Regions from separate parts of the Homo sapiens genome. Here region 1 is linked to region 2. Evidence: fine-mapped expression QTL. A gene starts in region 2. The other region holds a variant in brackets. All regions are shown on one strand. Distances are between the middles of the regions. Region 1 overlaps NECAB2 (N-terminal EF-hand calcium binding protein 2). Region 2 holds the start of NECAB2 (N-terminal EF-hand calcium binding protein 2).

Region 1 (5,362 bases), 25 kb before region 2:
TGCCTGGCAGGAACAAGTCTGTTTCCATGGTTTTACAAGCATACGTGAGGGGTCCTGGGGCTGGAAAAGCCATAGGAGGATGAGGAGAGGCACTGTGGCCCCTGTATCTGCCCCATTCTTCTCCCAGCCAGGGGCCCCTAGAGCCTCCATCCTTCCAGCCCAGAGGCAGCTCCGGTTGGCCGGTGAAGGGCGGGGCCTGAAGCCAGGCCCGGATTGGCCCCTGCTGACCGCCCGGGCCAGTTAGAGGCTGGGGAGGAGGACCTGGTCCCACCCCGTCTCCAGGACGCCCAGGTACTCCGTGGTTACCAGCCAGCCTGGTTGTTAGGGCGACGGTGCTCTAAAAATAAGCTTCAGAGTCTCCCTCCCGAGGCGCCCGCTGAGTTGTTATGACAACCGGGCCACGGGGTCCCCTCCGAGCCGCTCCCGCAGCTGGCTTCAGGAAGGGGGTAACTCCACCTCAGCCTCATCCCTGCAGGAGGGGAAGTTTGAGCTTCCTCCCTCGGACTTCATTCCACGTCAGCCTCTGTCTCCCTCCATGCGGGGAGCCCCTTGTTCCTGCCCCCATGAATGCCTGAGAACCCCCAAACTAAAAGTAGCAATACCCTTTACAAAGGGTGTAAAAAAAATACACAAAAGTAGGAGAAACATAAAACCACCTCAATCCCAGGGTTCTGAGAGCTCAGTTACCTTGGCTTATGTGGGTATACGGGTGTGCTGTGTGCATGTGGATAGGTTTGGGTAACAGAATGCCTCATAATAATTGCTAACATTGCTAATATTAAATGCAAGCTACAGCACCGGGCCCTGTGCTAAACCGGAGACATCATTTTGGTTCATCCTAACGACACCCCTATGAGGGAGGGGTCCCATGCTCCAGGTTATTTTCTTGATTATCAGAGGAGGAATCTAAGCCTCAGAGAGGACAAGTCCCTGGCCCAGGGTCACACAGCTATGAAGTGGCACAACCAGAATTCTGACTGATACCTGAGCCCATCTGTCTGTAGGCCCTAAGACAAACTTTTCTTTCCACCAAATGGTCATATTGTGAGCACTCTATCCCGAGTCACGAAACATTATCTGAAAATGTTTTCTGTAAGGGCTGTGCCATTTTCTATCACCTGTGGACGTCCCATATCACACTTAATACATTTGCTACTGCTGGTCACTTCCTTCCTTGTTTTGAAACTCTCTCGAATCATCACGTCTCTCTTTCATCCTGGTGCTGCCTTTCGGCCAATATCTGCTCCAGCCACTTCAGAGCAAAGTCTCCTTGAAGCTAGGGCCTTGCAACACGGGACCCTGCTGACCACCCTCTGCTCCTGGAGCTGCTCCTGCTGCCTGCAGGCCCGCCTGACCCCCCAACACTCTCTCTTCCCAGGCGCCCCTCCTTGGGCCTGAACAACACGAGCATCCCCCGGGGTTTGATCCTTAGCTTCGTCCTCGGCAGCTCCACGCCCCACCTGGGGGATGTCTTTTTCATGGTTCCCTGGCCCCTCTGCAGCCCAGACTTTTGTCCTGAACTCCAGGCTTAACTCTGCACTCCCTCAGGGGTTGGAAGGAGTAGACGCCGTGGTCAGGCCAGGGCTTACTTTGCTCTCCAGCCTCCCAATCAGCTCTGCCAAGCGGCTGATCTGGGCTTCCAGACCCTCTTCCTTTGCATCCTCCGTGGCTGCGGTAGAGAAAGAGACACACAGACTTCAGTGGTGGGCAGGACGAGGGCTTCGGGGGGAAGCTGGAAACATCCAGCCCCTCCAGGGGCATCAAACTTGCTCATCTCCCCAGTCCCTGTCAGAGGACTCTCAGAACTCCTCGGGACCCCCAGCTGGTACCCCCACCAGGGCCCCCGCTTTCTCTCACCAGATGGAAGGGTCTTGCCTTGTTCCATAGCCATGAGCTTGTGGTTGGGGGCAGAGGCGGGAGTGGGGCTTCCACACCAGGTCTGTGCCGCGCTGTGGCTGGGTTTGATGTGGTTCTGTCTGCAGTTTGGATGGGAACACACACAGACCATGGCGGTGGCTTCAGGGCCCTTACCACTTCCAGCATCTTCCACAGGCATTTATTACGCAAGACAGTGGACTCACACATGCACAGAACTTGCATCATGGCCTTTGTTTTGACAGAGGAGGAAATGAGGTTCTTAAAGCAGGTGACTCAGCCAGGGCCACGCAGCTAGCTGGGCAGAGCTGGGATTCGAATTCAGCTCCATTCTAGGACCCCACGGCCTAGGCCTTTTCCCCAAGAGATTCAGTTCCAGAGTGAGGCTGAGCCAGGGACCCACCCCCACTCTAACAGCTCGAAGCTTTCGGGCACGTGTAGAGCCCAAGCTGTGGAGTGACCAAGTCCCCCTCCCTCCCTCATGATAGGCCCATTTAATGTTTGGTGCCCTCTGGGGTGGGGGACCTGGTTTCAAGACCCCCCTCCAACACATACACATAAAAGCGAGACCTAAAGAGACACTGACAGTCGGGATGTAACAGGACAGAAACTGTGATCCTGACCTGGGCCTGGCCCCATCTCCCGGCCCTGGACACCCCTCTCCTGTGCATACTCATGTGCATACACACCCCTGCGTGCCCTGACAGGCACAGCTAGCCACAGGCAGAGGCAGACACACACACACACACACACACACACACACACACACACACACACACACAGCTCACCTTGCACTGTGTCCAGCACATAGTAGGGACTCAAAAAT[G/A]CTCAATGAATGACCAAATCCTCCCATGCAAAAGGATGCTGAAAAGCTCCTGGCAGACATACAGAAACACAGACACTCCCCCAGAAGACACACAGAGTGCCCTGTGCACGGCCCCAACACCCGCTTGGTCTCTGTGCATCGCGGTCTTGGTGCATTCTGGAATTTGTCTCTTGTGAACCTTGAACACTCCGCCAGGCTCTCCCCCTTGCGGAGGGAGCAAACTCGACTCCCGCCTTGGGAGGGGAGAGGCTGGCAGAGTCTTTATGGTGTCAATCATGGCTTCTCTATAAACCAGCAGGAAATTAAATGTATCCCTCAGACCATGACGGGTTGCTCAGGGCTCCCGGGTGGTGGGGTCTGAGCCAGTAGCCTGTGCTAGAGGTGACATCCTGGGAGACTGTCCTGGGGCTGGGAAACAGGATAGTCCTCAGGGACCCACAGCCTAGAGCCAAACTAGCTGAGATTTGGGGAAGTTCGAGGGAGGGGCATGTGTGGAACAGAGGTATCACGACAAGCTGCCCCGTCTGACAACATCCCCAAGTAAGGTCCCCACCATGGGGGCAGGTGGGTGTAACTGCTGACGCGTGATGGAGCTGACCCAGTGTGGGAAGTCTGCCCTGAAAACTGCGCAGCCATACTATCTGTTCTGCGGCAGGAGAAAAACAGCAAGTTTTTCATCAAGATAGTAACAGGAAAACCCAGGAAATCTAAGTGTCAGCTTTTTTCACAGCGATGGCTGCTAATTCTGGGGCACCCAAGAATCACAAGACTGACCACATGTGCAGAGTTCTGGGCTCCAGTCCAGGGATTCTAGCCAGTGAGTATGGCCAGGAGCCCAGGAATGTGTATTTTAATTTTCCCAGGTGATTCAGCGCAAATGCTCAGATCAAACTCATTTGGGAAACAGTGTCTCAGAGTTACCTTCACAATCATGTCTGATCAGGACCAGCTCTTCAACTACGAAGAAACACACGATCAAACCCCAGTCCCCCAGCAAACCAATATCCTGGTCCTGAGGTACCTCTCTGCCTGGAAAATTAAGGGCTCAATCGAGCTTGGGTGCCGACACCTGGCTGTTTCCCTCATCTGTTTGCATTTTCTCTTTTTCTTCTGTGTCAAGCACATCAGCTGTTCTGGGAAGAACTGAGCAAAGAAGGGTTTTTCTCAATTTGAAACAGCAAATGGAGGTGGGCGGGGGGACGGGTGCTCGTGTTCCCCGGGAGATGGGACTGCTGAGCCACGAGAATGTCGCTCCTCTCTAAATACCAGGTCACACCCCTAACACAGCAGCCACCACCTAGGATGGGACCCCAGATGCATTCCCATGGTTCCAAGCACACAAACAAGGCCTAACACAAGACCAGAAAGAAACACTCCTCTTTCACGTCTCTTTCAGTCCTCCTGAGAAACTCTCAACTTGCTACTACTGTCTTCAACACCTCTCTGATTTCCCCCCAGTCTCTCTTTTTAACAGAGAGGTGGCAAGCCTCAGGATTCAAGCTGGATCGTAAACAATGACAGGTGCTTATTTTTACAGTTACTTCACTTACGGCATGTGATGCCGAGAGTGCAGTTATAACCATATGCCATTTCCTAAACTGCTTTCTAATTTTCAAAAGTGGGCTGGGGTGTGGTGGCTCCTGCCTGTAATCCCAGCCCTTTGGAAGACTGAGACAGCAGGATTGCTGAGACCAGGAGTTTGAGAACAGCCTGGCCAACATGGCGAGACCCCGTCTCTACAAAAAAAAAAAAAAAAAAAATAGCTGGGTGTGGGTGGGACTACATGCCTGTAGTCCCAGCTCCTTGGGAGGCTGAGGTGGGAGAATTGCTTGAACCTGAGTTGGAGATTGCAGTGAGCCACAATGGTGCCACTGTACTCCAGCCTGGGGGACACAGCAAGATTCTGTGTCAATAAATAAAATAAGGCCGGGCTCCATGGCTCAAGCCTGCAATCCCAGCACCTGGAGGCTGAGGCGGGTGGATCACCCTAAAGACCAGCCTGGCCAACATGGTGAAACCCCATCTCTACTAAAAATACAAAAATTAGCTGGGTGTGCTGGTGGGCATCTGTAATCCCAGCTACTAGGGAGGCTGAGGCAGGAGAATCGCTTGAACCTGGGAGGCGGACGTTGCAGTGAGCTGAGATCTCGCCACTGCACTCCAGCCTGGGTGACAGAGCAAGACTCGATCTCAAAAAAAAAAAAAAAAGAAAAGAAAAGAAAAGGAAATAGAAAAAGAAAAAAGAACGAATGAGAGAAAGAGAGAAAGAAAGAGAGAGAGAGAAAGAGAAAATAGGCTAGCTGTGGTGGCTCACACCTTTCATCCCAGCACTTTGGGAGGCTAAGGCAGGTGGATCACGTGAGGCCAGGAGTTCAAGACCAGCCTGGCCAACATGACAAAACCCCGTCTCTACTAAAAATACAAAAATCAGCCAGGCATGGTGTTACACACCTGCAGTCCCAGCCACTCAGGAGGCTGAGGCATGAGAATTGCTTGAACCCAGGGAGGGAGAGGTTGTAGTGAGCCAAAATCACGCCACTGCACTCCTGGGCGACAGAGCGACACTTTTTGTCTAAAACAAAAAAATAAATAAATAAATAAAACGTGGGCCAAACAACAGAATAGTTCTGCATAAACAATTAGCATGTGGATGCAGCAAAA
Region 2 (5,362 bases):
TTGTTTGCAATGCAGGATGTCCCACCTACTCTGCACTGTAGTGGAGTCAGACCTTTCACTGTAACCAGTTCCCACGGGGACTGATTCACCAGCACTATTTTTTTTTTTTTTGAGATGGGGTCTCGCTCTGTCACCCAGGCTGGAGTGCAGTGGCGCGATCTTGGCTCACTGCAACTTCTGCCTCCCGGGTTCAAGCAATTCTCCTGTATCAGCCTTCCGAGTAGCTGGGACTACAGACGCCCGCCATCACAACTGGCTAATTTTTGTATTTTTTAGTAGAGACGAGGTTTCACCTTGTTGGTCAAGCTGGTCTCGAACCCCTGACCTCAGGTGATCCACCCGCCTCGGCCTCCCAAAGTGCTGGGATTACAGGCGTGAGCCACGGCGCCCTGCCCACCAGCACTTTAAAGCCTGAGAAGGATCCCAGCTTCTGCGGTGGCCCCCACCCCAATCTCAGTGGCTTGTTTTAACAAGGAGGGTACTGAGACCCAGGGAGAGGCAGCAACATGTACACATTTCCCGACACCAGGGAGGGCTGCTGGGGCCAGGTCAGCCATGGAGGAGGAGGAGGTAATACTCACTCTGACCCTTCCACCCTCTGTCCTCGCCTTGGGGTAAAGGACAGATGCCCTCGCCCCCCATCCCTCCAGGCAACGAGAAAGGGGGCACCCTTGGTCATTTCTAGGCACCTGGGCGGTGAGACTGAAGCACAGCTATGGGAGGGCCTCTCAAACATCACCCCTCCTCCTGGCTGAACCTCAGATCCCCAAGCCCTCCTCAAAGATCCAGCCTGGGCACCCCGCAGCCCCGTTCCTGACTGGGCAAGGCTCCTCAAAACTGGGGTCCCTATCTGGGTGTCCCAGATCCCCCTTGAGGCCAGGCACCAGGTAGGTGCCGGCTCTGGGCAGGAATGCTGAACACATGAGTGACATGGCAGGGCTGACACCTGGTAATGTCAGCCAGCTCCAGGAGTCTGCATGAGCACCTCCCGCCCCACCCCCCGCTCATCACTCCTTTTGGCAGGTGAGGAGATGGAACCTCAGAGCCCCCACCCTGACTGGGCAGGGCTTCCATGCAGGGCAGCTTGGGGCTGCAGGGCTCTGCCCAGGACTTTCAGTGGGAGCTCTGCGGGGGTCCTGAGGAGGGGATGGTTTGGCTGCATGGGTGTGTCTCTGGCTGTGTGTGCGTGCGTAAGCGAGTGCGTGAGTGTGTGAATGTGTGCCTGCGAGTGTGGCACTCTAGAGCTCCCCCTGCTCTGGCCGGCCCTCCCAGCCCAGACCCCGGCCAAGGGTTCCAGGAGCAGGGAAGAGGAGAGAGGAAGGGAGGGAATCCCCCGACTCACAGGGATCCGCGATACACGCGTGTGCACATTCACACACACCCACCACTCTCCCAGAAATCCACCACACAGGCAGAGGCAGCCCCCAGCCCCACCCCAGCAGGACCCTCGCTGAAACACGCAGTCAACATCCCCAGAAGCCTCCTCCACCTCCTCCTAGCACTCTCTGCTGGGAGAAGTCCTCCTCCTCCGAGCCGCCCCCTGAAGATTCCTCCCTCCCGGGTGGGGCGGGTGGGAGGGTGAGGTGGGCTTCCCAGAGATGGGTGATTTGGGTCCCAGGGGAGTTAGGAGGGGTGAGGGGTGAGTCTGGTCCATGAAGAGGACCCAGCTCTCTGTAGGGTAGAGGGGTGTGGGGAAGGGAACAGAGGACTTGGAATGGAAGGGGGCGGGGTGGGGAAGACCAGAGGGGTACCAGCTCAGGGCTGATGGGCGATGGCTCTGGCTCAATGGAAAGGAGACGAGAAGACAGAAGGTGGGGAGGGGGCTTCACTTTTAAAGTGGCAGTAGCTGGGGCAAAGGGTCTTTGAGCGTGAGATGAACGGGGGCTCAGGGTCTAGGGCGAAGAGAGGTGGGCTAGAGGTAGGGGTTGTTAGGGGTCTCAGAAAAGTATCGCTCCGGACAGGATCCGGGATGGAGAGGAGGAGGCGGCTGGACGCGGCGAGGGGCTCCGGTCCCGCGGGGTAAAGGGTGGGGGTTTGGCTTGGACAAAACTAGGGGGACAGTGGCCGGGTCCGGGGGCTCACGGCTCCCCACTGTGGGCAGGCAGGGACTCCGAGAAGCGCCGGTGGAGGGGCGGAGGAGGGGGGTCTCCCGGTCCAGGGAGAGGACTGGGCTGGAGACCGGCCTGGACGTGGCGGGGCTGGGGGCTCCCGCTCCGGCACGCGGAGGGGCCGGGGGTCTCCTGCCCGGGTAGGGAGGGCCTCGCGGGTCGCGGCGTCGGGGTCCGCCCGAGGGGCGGAGGGGGCTCCGGGTCCCAGCGGAGGCCACGGCGGGGGTCCCGGCCGGCGCGTACTCACGTCCAGGATGACGGCGGTGCCCCCGCGCGGCGAGGCTGGGCCGGGGTCCGCGGGGGCGGCGGGGGCCAGCGACTCCCGGGGCTCGCCCATCCTGGCGCCCACCCAGCGCAGCAGCCCGCCCAGCGCCCGGCCCTGCTGCGGCGGCTCCCGGAGCAGCCTGTGCGCGCCGGCCCTGCACAGGCGCGCCGCCCGCTCGCACATCGCGCCGCGCCCGCCGCCGCCGCCCGGAAGCCCGCCGACCCCCGCCCAGCTGCGGCCCGCCCCCGCGCGACCCCCTCCCCGCGCTGCCCGCGCCGCCCCGCCCTCTCTCCCGCTGCCCCCGCGGCCGCGGACACCGCGGGGACTGGCCGGCGCCGGGGGGCGGGCCGGCCGGACCCCGAGCCACGTGCCCGCTCCCCGCCGCCCCCACCCCCGCCGGCCGGGCGCGGGGCCTGAGGACTGCCCGCCGGGGCGAGGGGCGCGGGCGCAGCCACAGAGGGGGCTACCCGGAGGGGAGGGGTATGTGGGGCCTGGGGGCGGGGCGGCGCCCCTGGGGCCTGCTCCCCAAAAGTCTCCTGCTCTCCCCGCTTCTAAAGTCCCCCCTCCCACTCGCGGCGCGCAGCAGAGGCCGAAGCGCGGGTGTCCAGCGAGCCCGGAGCGCCCTCTGCCGGCTCCAGCCCCGGGGAGCGGCGCCCACGCCCCGCGGCCCCGTCACGCCCGCGGGCGCCCATCCTTAACTCCCGCGGGCGTGCACGCCCCCTCAGGCCGCCCCCTTGGTTACAAAACGCCCAGAACCAGTCTTCACCCCAGAACATCTTTCCTTCATACTCCATCCACCCATCCATCTATCCACCCACCCACCTGTCCGTCCATCCATCCATCCATCCATCCACCTGCCTACCCGTCCATCAATCCATCTATACATCCATCCACCCATCCTCCCATCCATCCATCCGGCCGGCCGACTGTCCGTCCATCCATCCACCCACCCTCCCAACCATTCATCCATCCATCCATCCACCCACCCAGCATCCTCCCATCCATCCATCCATTCACCCACCCACTCATCCTCCCTCCCTGGCATCCATCCATCCACCCTCCATCCATCCATCCATCCACCCTCCCATCCATCCATCCATCCATCCATCCATCCATCCATCCATCCGTCCATCCATCTGCCCGCCCGCCCATCTGTCTGTCCATCCACCCACCCACCCTCCCATCTATCCATCTATCCACCCCCCTACCCTCTCATCCATCCATCCATCCACCCACCTACACACCCTCCCATCCATCCACCCACCATCCTTCCATCCATCCATCTATCCTCCCTCCCTCCCATCCATCCATCCATCCTCCCTCCCATCCATCCACCCACCCACCCACCCCCCTCCCTCCCATCCATCCATCCATCCATCCACCCACCCACCATCCTCCCATCCATCCAACCATCCTCTCATCTATCCATCTGTCCACCCACCCACCCATCCTCCCATCCATCCATCCACCCATCCATTTAAAAGATGAATTAAGGAGAACCCACTAGGTGCCAGGCAGGTGCCCAACCACGGAGTTCCAGCAATGGGCAAAACAGATGGTGTACTTGGTCTCCCAGAGCTCCTGGAGCTTACATCCAAGTGGGCAGAGCCAAACACTGAAATGATTCCACAAACAAATGAACAATTAAAACTGAACTGCTGGAAGGGTGTGGTGGCTCATGCCTGTGATACCAACACTTTGGGGAGCCAAAGAGGGCGGATCACTTGAGGTCAGGAGTTCAAGACCAGCCTGGCCAACATGGTGAAACCCCGTCTCTATTAAAAATACAATAACTAGCTGGGCGAGGTGGCAGTCACCTGTAATCCCAGCTACTTGGGAGGCTGAGACAGGAGAATCATTTCAACCCAGAAGCAGAGGTTGTAGTGAACCAAGCGCCACAGCACTCCAGCCTGGGTGACAAAATGAGACTCTGTCTCAAAAAAAAGAAAAAAAAACTGCACTGCTATGAAAAGGTAGCACCTTAGACCATGAAAGGAGTATTTGCTGTGACGGCAGTGGAGGGGTTTGTGTCAGAAGAGGCTTCCTAGAGGAAGTGATTCTTATGCTGAGACATCCCAAGGAAAAGGAGTTAAAGAAAGGCGGGAAACTGTCCTGGGCTGGGGACTCTCTGTGCAAAGGCCTTGGGGCAGGCAGAGACCTGGCCAGCAGGAGGGACTGAAAGGAGGCCGCATGGCAGAACAGAGAGGAGGGAGGCCTGGGACAGGCTGCGGAGGGGGCGGGGCTGCAGCGCCCTCCTGGACATCACTGCCTGCACACACCCGCCACTCCCACCCCCAGACTCTAGTACAGCTGCCCGCTCAACTGCCCCCACACTTGGGGCACCATCCTTTGTACCCCAAGGCCCCAGCCATGGACCTCATCCAGGACCACATGCCCCAGGACTCCTCCCACAATCCCCTTTCCTCCCTTCCCCCCAGCCCAGTGCAGGGTTCCGGGAACGCAGCTCCCTCCGAGCACAGAGTCCTCAGACGCATGAGAGCAGGTGGGCACTGGCTTTATTTGGGACCTGCTTCTGGAAGGCGCAGGGCTGCAGGTCTCCTGGCTGGGTGCTCAGCTGGTCACACCAGCAGCTTTCCCCACAAATCCCAGGTCTAGGCCAACCCTGGCCTGCGGCCGCTGTTACCACCTCAGACACTGGTCTAAGTCCAGGGCAGCCTGGGATCCCTACTCCTCTTGACCCCAAAGGCCAGCAACGTGGGCTGACACCCCTCCCCGGGGCATCTTTGGACGGGTCCTGCATCCAGCAGGGATGTGGTCATCTCTGTCCTCTCAGGGCCTGGGAGCCAGCGGGTCTGGCCGAGTGTTAGGGTGGCTTCCTGGTCTCCTTCCTTAGCAGGGAGCTGGCCACAGCCAAGGCGCCCCCCTGCACAAACCTCACGAAGTTGTCCCCGGCCAGCGGCCCCATGGCGTACAGGCCCTCCTGGCGGGTGCTCTGGTAGGTGAAGGGGTCCACGTCAATGGGGTTCCT

The links.
Region 1: its variant is fine-mapped to the expression of NECAB2 in whole blood (INTERVAL, PIP above 0.99).

Annotation. Positions count from the first base shown.
Region 1 is chr16:83,990,916-83,996,277 of GRCh38, reverse strand. NECAB2 (N-terminal EF-hand calcium binding protein 2) reads right to left here. Exons shown (of 13, transcript NM_019065.3): 7 at 1,858-1,976; 8 at 1,590-1,669. Among named protein-coding and RNA genes, the nearest start is that of NECAB2, 25 kb to the right of the region's middle. RefSeq lists a silencer at 233-292. The variant G/A (reference allele first, on the strand shown) is at 2,702.
Region 2 is chr16:83,965,843-83,971,204 of GRCh38, reverse strand. It overlaps NECAB2 (N-terminal EF-hand calcium binding protein 2), which reads right to left and starts at 2,961. Exons shown (of 13, transcript NM_019065.3): 1 at 2,356-2,961. The coding sequence starts at 2,556. OSGIN1 (oxidative stress induced growth inhibitor 1) reads right to left here. Exons shown (of 6, transcript NM_182981.3): 6 at 4,873-5,362. The coding sequence ends at 5,198. RefSeq lists a silencer at 2,896-3,085.